2 separate regions of the Homo sapiens genome follow, and region 1 is linked to region 2. The links come from fine-mapping of genetic effects on gene expression. A gene starts in region 2. The other region holds a variant in brackets. All regions are shown on one strand. Distances are from middle to middle.

The links. PIP is the estimated chance that this variant, and not a neighbour inherited with it, causes the effect.
Region 1: its variant is the best candidate, but not a certain one, in a credible set for the expression of KISS1 in prostate (GTEx, PIP 0.51).

What each region holds. Positions count from the first base shown.
Region 1 is chr1:204,167,875-204,173,362 of GRCh38, forward strand. No RefSeq gene overlaps it. Among named protein-coding and RNA genes, the nearest start is that of REN, 4.3 kb to the left of the region's middle. RefSeq lists a promoter at 1-5,488, cis regulatory regions at 1,283-2,381, 4,088-4,126 and enhancers at 3,749-4,340, 4,022-4,247. The variant C/T (reference allele first, on the strand shown) is at 3,348.
Region 2 is chr1:204,193,386-204,198,625 of GRCh38, forward strand. KISS1 (KiSS-1 metastasis suppressor) reads right to left here and starts at 3,106. Exons shown (of 3, transcript NM_002256.4): 1 at 2,991-3,106. It overlaps GOLT1A (golgi transport 1A), which reads right to left. Exons shown (of 5, transcript NM_198447.2): 5 at 4,778-5,111. The coding sequence ends at 5,073.

The sequences.
Region 1 (5,488 bases), 25 kb before region 2:
TAATCCTAGTGCTTTGGGAGGATGAGGTAGGAGGCTCACGCTCACTTGAAGCTCGTTCAAGACCAGCCAGGGCAATATAGCAAGACCCCATCTCTGAAAAAAATTAGCTGGGTGTGGTGGTGCGTGCCTGTAGTCTTAGCTACTGGGGAGGCTGAGGCGGGAGGATCACTTGAGTCCAGGAGTTCAAGGCTGTAGTGAGCTATGATTGTGCCACTGCACTTTAGCCTGGATGACAGAGTGAGACCCTGTCTCAAAAAATAAAAGGAAAGATTTTACATTTTCTCAAGATAATTCCTCATTCTTGTTATCTTTATCAGGTTTTTGATTACTTAGGAAAACTGAGCTTTAGAAAGGTTAAGTCTTTATATTCATGTAACTTTCTGTATTGCTATTAAAGTCTTTTAATTATCACTTTTGTGAAATGAATAATTATTATTTTACAAAGACCGGCGGTTCTGTTTTGATCAAATGGTTTGAGGCTTTAACATTTTGACAAATGTCCTCAAAATCTAATCCTAAATTAAGTTTGAAATGTTGCTAATTCTTTATGTTTTGTTTTCCAGAGTCAAGAAAGCCTTTTTTTTTTTTCTGAGACGGAGTCTTGCTCTGTCACCCAGGCTGGAGTGCAGCGGCGCAATCTCGGCTCACTGCAAGCTCCACCTCCTGGGTTCACACCATTCTCCTGTCTCAGCCTCCCAAGTAGCTGGGACTACAGGCACGTGCCACCACGCCCAGCTAATTTTTTGTATTTTTAGTAGAGACGGGATTCCACCATGTTAGCAAAGATGGTCTTGATCTCCTGACCTCATGATCTGCCTGCCTCAGCCTCCCAAAGTGCTGGGATTACAGGCGTGAGCCACTGCGCCTGGCCCGCCTTTTTTCTTTTTGAGCTATTTATAGCTTATAGAAATTGGGTTTACCTTTCTCTCTGTACCTAATATCTCCAGGATTTAAAAAACTATTAAATCCCTCTGGGCCCAAGGACGCTCATGGAAGAGGTGGGCACAAAACACCTTTTGATGTACTAATTTTACTTTTAAGGAGTAAAATTAGTTCAGATCCTCCAAATATAGGTACACAGATGCCTAAACAGCTGATGGCTCAACACATAGAACTTATAGAAAGGTCAGTTTTGTACCTTTGCTATTTGGCTTTTGGTTTTGGCTCTTATGTTACTTAAAAGGTTTTAAGGGTTAATGAATGCTTGGCCACCTCCCTTACCAAATGGCCTAAAACGTTTAATTGACTACAAGTCTTTTGGCTTTGAGTTCCTTAGCCACAGGGATCCTACCAAGGGATGTGATGGACCTGGGGCACATAGCCACAACACCCCCAGCAACAATATGGAACAAAATAAAAGTTTGGCCATTTATGCTGCCTTTGGTATATCTTGGCCAAATGGGAGAATGTCAACTAAAAATAAAATATTAAGCCCCCTGCTGACTGAATGGACCCCCTCTTGGCTAAGGGGACCCCAGAAAAACCTTAAAAACTTAGTCTTCAGGTATAATGTGATGGGAAGTCAGATACGCCTCATTATACCCTCTCCCTTTTGTGGTTTAGATACAATAACTAATCAACACTAATGTTAAAATAGAGGTCATAAGACTGACATAACTGAAATTTTGTGGCAATAAAATACCATATTATAAACAGGACCTAAGGCCATGCCAGGCAAGAGTTAAGTCATGCATCCTTACACTTAAAGAATAAGCTATATTCTCAATGACACAAGGTTTCTCTTTTTCTCTAGCAGCTAAGCAAGCACTGGCCTTAAGACAAGCAATATTAAAACAATTTCAACTCATCCAGTTCATAGATGCTGACTAACTGAACCCCAGTTCCACCAGCCATAACTATAGCTTTGATTGAACAAAAGACTGATTTCACTAATTTTCTCCTGATAATAAGACTGCTGGCCATGAACTGGTTCTAGCTAGTTATAGAGATTGTGCATTTGCATGCCTTTGTGTTCTGAAAAGACCTTTTGATGTACAGGGCCTAATTGTAGTACATTTAAATGTTACGCTTTCACCTCAAGGTAAACATGGGTCATATGTAACATGCATGTTTGTACAATACGCATGTGTCAGGATCACCTTCATAAATATTCGTAGCTTCTTCTGTAACATACATACATTGAATATGTATGCTTAGCCAACTGCTGTCATAGTCCCACAGGAGCCCTGGGTAAAATTGACAGTGGGGAACAAACTTATTGACTTTCTTATTGATACAGGGGCAACGTATTCTGTAGTTAATACCCACCTACCTTAATTCAAAGACTATCTATGATGGTGACAGGAGTGTCAGGGGAGCTGTGACTTGTCTCTTCCTGAAACCTTTAGATTATCATCTTAGAGACCACAATCCATGGGAAAAACTGAAAAGATGAACCATACTCTAAAAAGAAGCATTGCCAAAATATATCAAGAAACTAATTTGACTTGGGATAAGATGTTGCTGATTGCTGTTGTGGATTCGAGTGGCTCCCTCAAGTAGGTTCAAATTGAGCCCCTTTGAAGTATTATCTGGTAGCCCATTCTAGGTTTTTGTCCTGGTGGGAGAACCAACTGATGTTTTAAGAGATTTGGCAATTACCAAATATTAAGACTCTAGGCACTATACTAACTTCTGTTCATGAGTTTGCTTCTAGCAGGACCACTCATCCAGCAGATGTGGTCCTACATCCTTTTCAACTGGGAAATTAGATCCTCCTAAATACCTGGAAAGAACAAGGACCTGAACACCAATTTGCTGCCAAGTGGACAAGGCCATTTGAGCTGCTGGTGAACACACGCTTATCAGTTAAACTTGCTGGAGTAAAGCCATGTGCACATTATACTCAGGTCAAGGCAGTACCACCAGAAGACAGCCCACTAATCCGGAAACCAGGAAAACAGTGGGCTTGTGAGCACTTGAAAGACCGAAAGCTACTGTTTCACAAAAAGATAAGTACAATGAAAATGTATCCCCTATGTGTCTTGCATGTCCTTTAGAGATTTTTGTTTCCTTGGCAAGACAACTCTTGAGTTAGGATTTCTCAATCTATTGCCTCTTTCACTAGCATATCACACTGCCAGATTTGTCATCTTAAACCTTGTTCAGTACATGACCACTCTGATCCTCTAGTTGTTCCTGTACACATAATTTTAGTCATGTAGCCTCTTGGGCATTAGATCTATAGAAGCTGGTTTCTCAAATCATACATAGGATCCAATTGATAACTCCATACCCAGAGGCCCCATGTTTCTTTCTTATGCAGCACCTCATTAGACACTACATGCAAAGCAATAATAAGGACCCACAAGCCTGCAAGCCTACTTTCTTTTTTTTTTTTTTTGAGA[C/T]GGAGTCTCGCTCTGTCGCCCAGGCAGGACTGCGGACTGCAGTGGCGCAATCTCGGCTCACTGCAAGCTCCGCTTCCCGGGTTCACGCCATTCTCCTGCCTCAGCCTCCCGAGTAGCTGGGACTACAGGTGCCCGCCACCGCGCCTGGCTAATTTTTTGTATTTTTAGTAGAGACGGGGTTTCACCTTGTTAGCCAGGATGGTCTCGATCTCCTGACCTCATGATCCACCCGCCTCGGCCTCCCAAAGTGCTGGGATTACAGGCGTGAGCCACCGCGCCCAGCCGCAAGCCTACTTTCTACTTACCAAATGGCGTCCCTAAGCTAGCCACCTGTTGCTAGCTTAATTCCTCCTCTACAGACCCATATTGATACAATTAGACAACAGGCTACCTGGCTTTAACAAACCTTAGAACACCAAAGCAGGCTTAATCTGGGGGCACTTACAGAGACTGCTTTAAAGACCTATTCTCCTGGATTCCTAGTGTAATTCCATCAATCTTGGGAGGCATTCTTAAATTCAGCCTTGATGTTCTTCTTTTAGTCATGGTGGCCTACGTTCTAGTAAAACTTATTATGTACTGTGTAAACAAAGGTTGTGCAAGTCTCGCTAAAACTATCAAAGCAAAAAGGGAAATGCCGATGATCATTGTTCCTAAAAATGGCACTACGAAATATTTCCTTAGCCAGGTCAAATGGTTTCATTCCATAGTCACCCCTTGTCAACCCTGTTTGGCAGGAAGTAGCCAGGTGAGTAATGATGTCTCATTTTCCCCAATCCCACAAGACTGTGGGATGAACCTTTGACAATGGGGAAATTGAAATAGTGGAGGGAGGCTTAGCATGACTGACTCCATTTTGCCTCTGACCCCCAGGGGTAATATCTTTTAGGTTAAAAGCTTCTGCTTAGCTCTGTACACAGACCAGCTAATTATAGATTAGCTTGCAGTTCAACTTAAAAAAATGATAACAGCTCTTTCCCCCAAACTAAGCCCCAAGGAGATAAGGAAGAATACAGAGAAATAACAATGTTATGTTAAAGATTTATAGGAACATTGTGACCTGACCTAGAAAAAAGAACTTTTACATACTCCTCAGACCCTTGCTGGCACCCAGGTGTCTGCGGTCATCAGTCACCTCTTGATCCCAACCTCTTCCTCTTCCCCCTCCCCTAAATGTAAAAAGTAACCTAAAAGTCATGCTGACTTCAGATGGTTCTTTATGACGCTAGTCCACCATCTTCTTGGTTTTCTGAATAGGGTCGCTTTCTTTGCCCCAACACCTTACCTCTCAGCTTACTTGCTGTTGTGTGGTGAGTGGTGTGTGCTTGGATTTGGTTACATAATCCTCTGGAAGCAGGGAGCTGGGGGAGGAGGGGGTTGTCTATCCTCTGTTGACCTAGTAAGGGTGGGAGAGAAGGGCAGTCTTCAGGGTTTTGGCTTCTGCTAAATAGAGGTAGGGCAGCTGATCTTCCAACTTATTCTCCTCTTTCTGCTTGGCTCTAACTCCCTTTTAGGCCCTGGTTCTCTGCCTCATTTCCTTTTCCCTGTAGCTTTACAAGCAGTCAAGTACAGCTCCCCAGACAGACATCTGGTCCCTAAATCCCAGGATGAGTGCTATTTATTCAGGCTAAGATGCCTATCTTGGCTTTTCCCTGATTATTTTTTAGGGCCCACTTCAAATATTACCCCCTCCTCCATGAAGCAGGCCCTGACTCAGCCTGGAATTGACTGCTTTCTGCTGTAGGCTTCCACAGCATGGCTACAAGCCCTTCTATGACAGCACCAACTTAGCTGCTTTTGCAGCAGAGTTCTTTATGTATGTATGAATATGATTTTTGCCCACAGTGGTGCTTAATATTTATTAAGTGGATGAACTAGTGAACTGCAATGGGCAGTGCAAAGAGCCCTGGGTTGGTGGTCAGGGACTTGGATCCTAGTCTTCATTCTACCATAAATTTGCTATGTGATGTTGGATCCCTCCTTTCTCCTCTTTGGACCTCAGTTTCCAAATCTGTACAGTGAAGCAGATGGCTGGATGGCACCAAGGGTGTCTTCATGCTCTGATACCCTAATATTCTAATATTCTGTGCCTCCAGGGTACTGCCCTCTACACCAGCTCCACACCAGCTGTGGGCAGTACA
Region 2 (5,240 bases):
GGGAGCCTGGCAACAGGCACTTCTTCCTTCCATGGTGGGTTCTGCACAAATCCACAACTTTCTGTGTTCCACTCTCCCCATCCATACGCTTGAGTCTGACCTTGTTCTCTCCTGCTGTAAGAGAAACTTATTTCTTTTTCTTTTATAAGGAAAAAGAAAGAAAGAGGCAATCATCTTGCTCTCTCTCATAGCCCTTCACAGCCTTGAAGACGGTCATTAAATTGTCTTATTGCCTATCATTCATGGAAAAGAAAAACCTTTCCTTGATTTATCAGGTCAGTTATCTCCATAGTCTATTCTTTGTGGACTCTAAGAGGCTATGAATTGAATTGGCCTCATCATTTTGGCTGCTGAGATGGGAGCCGTGTGCCCTGATCCTCACACCATTTCCCATCACCCTGCCTTGCTCTGCCCCACCGACACCCCACATACCCCACCCTACCTCTTCCGGCTCCCAAATCTAATTTCTTTTTGAAAAAGTCACCAGACACTTTGAGACTGTCCAACAAACACGATTAAAGACAAAAGGCTGGGGAGGCAGGAGCAATGCCAGCTGAGCAAAAAGATTGTCCTGGCCTGACCCACAGCCTGGAGCCGCTCTCCCTGGGGAAGGGGGACTGGGGGATGAGAACCTTTTGTGCCCATCAGCTCCTAATGGTGGCTCAGGCCCATGCATCTCTCTGCTCTTGCACCCACACCCCCACCCCCCATTCCTCACCCAGCTCCCTGCAGGACTCAGGCATGGAGTAAAGAGTAAGAACCCTGAAATGGAATGAGGAGTACTTGAATCTTGCCCCAGCTCTGCTTTCATTCCCTGTGAAATGTGAGCAAGTCACCCCCATCTCCAGACCTCATTGGTCCATCTATAAAATAAGAACCCTGGATCAGATTGGCCACCAGCCACCTGCTCAGAAGTTTACTTATCCTTGCAGACTTTGATACTGTGACAAGTTGAAACCCAGACCACAGCTTTCTGCATTTACCTTAAGGCCCAGGGCTGGGGCACGGAGTAGAGGTAGGATTAATCCATTGGAGAGAATAGTGTAAAAGCATTTCAGACCGTGGATGCACAGGGTCTGGGTTGATTTGGAAATCACTCCTTGAGCACCGACTAGGTGCTGGTGCTGTGCTAGGTGCTAGGGGTGCACAGGTGTGCTAAGACAGAGTTGCTGCCCCCAAGATCTCAAGTCTAGCATGAGAAATTAACTCATCAGCAGATCATTTCAAAATAACACTGTAAATGACATACCGGATGCATGTGAATCCACAAGGGGATATGGGAGTCCAGGGGAACCCAACCTAGGAGGACCAGGCAGATTTTTGGCAGGGGGTGGCACTTGAGCTGTTTCTGAGCATGAATCGCTGAAAGGTTTACAGAAAGTGTTCCCAGGACGGTGCTAAGGCGCTGAAGCAAGGGCAGGGGCTGAGTGCAAAGGGAACTTCAGGCCCTCTAGCTAGACAAGAGGATGGAGCTTTGCATGGAGAGAAAGCTAGTGACAAGGCTGGGGGAAGGGGCCCTGCAGGGGCTTCATCCTGGAGGGGTCTGAGCCAGACAGGAATGTGGGTAGATGTACATTTCCGGTTCTCTGTGCGGAAGCAGGGTGGTGGGCCAGGAAGGAGGGCAGTGGGCTTGTGTGGTTGGAGGGTGGTACTCTTTCTTCCGGCTCCCCTTTCCCCCCGAGTGCCTCCTTCCCACTGTGGATGGCACTTACCATGTGCGCCATGGGACAACTCTGCCTGACCCCAGCACACACACACACACCCCCCACACCACACACATACACCACACACACCACACATGCACACACACACCACACACATATATACGCACACACCCATACACATATACACGCATACACCCATACACACACATCATACACACACACATACACCACACACACCACACACATACACCCATACACACACATACACATATGCCACACACACCACACACGCATACACACCACACACATATACACACATACACCTATACACACACATCATGCACACACACCACACACGCACACACACCACACACACATATACACACATACACCCATACACACAACATACACACACACATACACACATCCATACATACACATCATACACACACATACACCACACATACCACACATGCACACACACCACACAGATATATACCCATACACCCGTACACATACACTACACACCACAGATGCACACACACGCCACACACATATACACACATACACCCATACACGTACATCATACACACACATACACCACATACACCACACATGCGCACACACATCACACACATATACACACATACACCCATACACACATATCACACACACACACACACACACACACACACACACACACAGATTCCACTGCCCAGCCCATCGGGGCACTTAACATATATGGTAGAAATGAATTATTTGGAAAGGGGCCATGAGTGGCCGACCTGCTGTAGACAATTTTTGTGGTTCCCTCCACCCTGGGGGGTTTGTATCCAGTGAGTGACAGAAATTCCAGGCATGGTTGGAAAGCTTCTGGAGTGAAGTGGCCCCTAGTTCTTAGTGGGTAGGTAGATGCCCTTGGTTAGGCTTGTATTTGCCATCTGTAATTTGGGGGGAGCTGCTCAGAGGAGCCCCATTGCTCTCAAGAGCCCCGAGCGGTTCCCTAGGTCCATCCAAGCGTGTCTGTGGTCTCTAATTCCAGCCACAGCATTTATTTATTGCATGTATTCCTTCCACAGCAAGAGAGAGCCCTCGGGATCCCCAGAGTGTTAGCTTCACAAATAAAGTGCGACTCAGTGTATTCGCCCAGGCATCCCAGGATAATCTGGCCAGGCTGGTAAACAGGAAAGATCAGTGTCTCCCTCCCCTGCCTTTGCCTGCCTGGATGCATCTGTCCGTCTTAGAACGGATTCCCTGCTCCCCTCCAGAGCATCCCCAGGTCAGGGCAGACCCCCTTCCCAGGGGTGGACACTGCAGTGTGCCTACCTTGCCTCAGTCCTGGCCTGGGCAGGAGTCTGGCGGAGCCTCTGAGGTGACGAGACCACCTGGCTGGGTGAATGTCCAGAGGGTGGGCAGCTGGGCTCCCGGTCTCAAGAGTTCTCCCCAGCTCCCTGATCACATCCCTTTTATAAAGCCCGGGGTGACGTCTCCAAGCACAGGCCCACTCTGCCGCCCCTCCCTCCTCCTCAGACCCTCCTGAAGAGCATGGCACCTTGGGAGGCCTCTGCCTCCGGGCTCTGTGACTGGAGGCAGCCTCTCCTCCTGCCCCACCCGAGCCCTCCGAGGCGGGACTTTCTCCTTCTTACCGGCTCTTTCCATCCTCCACACCCTCTTCCCACCCAGAGGACCCATCCTGCCCCCAAACAACGTGGAAATGGGCTATCTGAGGAGGGTGGGGAGAAGTGTCAGTGTGAAATGTCTTGTTTCCTCTCCGAAGAGCCACAGACACACCTAGTCTGAATTAGACGTAGAAAACGACAGGAAGAGGGGAGGAGAAGGGCACAGGCTGACCCAGGGGCTCCTCACATCCCATGCTCCCAGCTCTGAGGGAAAGCCAGGTCAGCGTGGGTCTCCAGGCGGCTCCTAGACTGCGCCCTGTGACTGGCACAGGGTGGTGGTGGCAGAGATTCTCTCCTTTTTCCTTCCTTCCTGCTTCCCTTCTTTCCTCGGTCACTGAGCGCTTCCTCAGCGCAGGGTTTTGAGGTGAATAGGCTATGGACTGGTCAGAGACCTTAGGTAAGCAACCAGCTATGAGCAAGGAGGACGAAATGGGAGCTGCAGAAGGTGGATGCACCTGGGAAGTGCCAGGGGTGCAGAGAGGGGACTTCCAGGTGGCAGCACATCCAGACAGCCTGCTTGGGGGCCCCACCTTCTTGTCTCGTGGCACCCACCACCATACTATTTTGTGACTGCTCAGGTACAGCACTTTGAGGACAGGGACAGGCCCCCTTCCCCCTGTACCCTTGGCACCCACTCCATTGCTGGGCACATACAGAGAGGGCCCTCAATAGATATTTGCTAACTGCATGCATCGCAAGTGACTTTTGTCTCTTTCTTGAGCCTGCAATAACTCTCTATACCCTTGGACAAGGGGCTCTCCAGGGCAGAGACTGTTTCTTCTATCAGGCTGGGAGTCTCTGAAGGCAGGGGCTATGTCTCTACCCTCAGACAGGACGCTCTCCCAGCACAAGCTCAACCTGGTCGTCCCCTAATGCTGGAGAAGCATGCCGGCAGTCTGCAGGTTAGCACCCCTCACTTGTCTGATGCTTACTGTTAACAGGGGATTGCAAACATATTATTATCACACCCATTAGGGCTGTTAAACACCAGGACAGAAATGATAGCCTATGAGGACAGCACTGACCCTCATAGACCAAAACTTCGCTGTGGGGATGATGTGTACGTTGGCCTGTCCTGAAGCAGGAGGTGGTCTTAATGGGCTGAAGACGCTAACTTTTTTTTTTTTGAGACGGAGTCTGGCTTTGTCACCCAGGCTGGAATCCAGTGGTGCGATCTCAGCTCACTGCAACCTCCGCCTCCTGGGTTCAAGCGATCCTCCTGCCTCAGCCTTTTGAGTAGCTGGAACTACAGGCACCTGCCACCACGCCCCGCTAATTTTTGTATTTTTAGTAGAGACGGGGTTTCACCATGTTGGCCAGGCTGGTCTCGAAGTTCTGACCTCAGGTGATCTGCCCACCTCAGCCTCCCAAAGTGCTGGGATTATAGGTGTGAGCCACCGCGCCCGGCCAAAGACGCCAACTCTGAGCCTTAGACACACGCACAACTTGGGAATTTAATCTTCACTTTTCCTCCCATAAATATAGAGTGAGGGTGTGATACCAGCCCCAGCCCAGTCTCCTTGGGGTCTGCATCTCTGCTTCCTGGCAGCCTCTTGAGTCGACTTGGGGATTTGACGTCAGTTGCTCAGCTCCATTCCTTCCTTCTGGACTTGGGGAGGTCCGGATATGTCGGGGAGTGAGTCAGTGCAGGGGACTGAGGGGGTGGTTCCCATTCTCCCTCTAGCCCCCTCAACCAATGATCCAAGTTCAAGGAGCTCATCTCTGTTTTTCAGACCATCGAGCTAGTGCCTTGAAGTCTCCGGAACAGCTGTGGGAGCCAAGAATCATTACTCCACACAAAGGGTAGAGAGCAGATGCAATATCTAGTTATTACAGAGCTGGCCTTGAGAGCCAGGAGCTGTGCCAGGCGCAGATACGAGAGGGGCTGTAGGGGCTG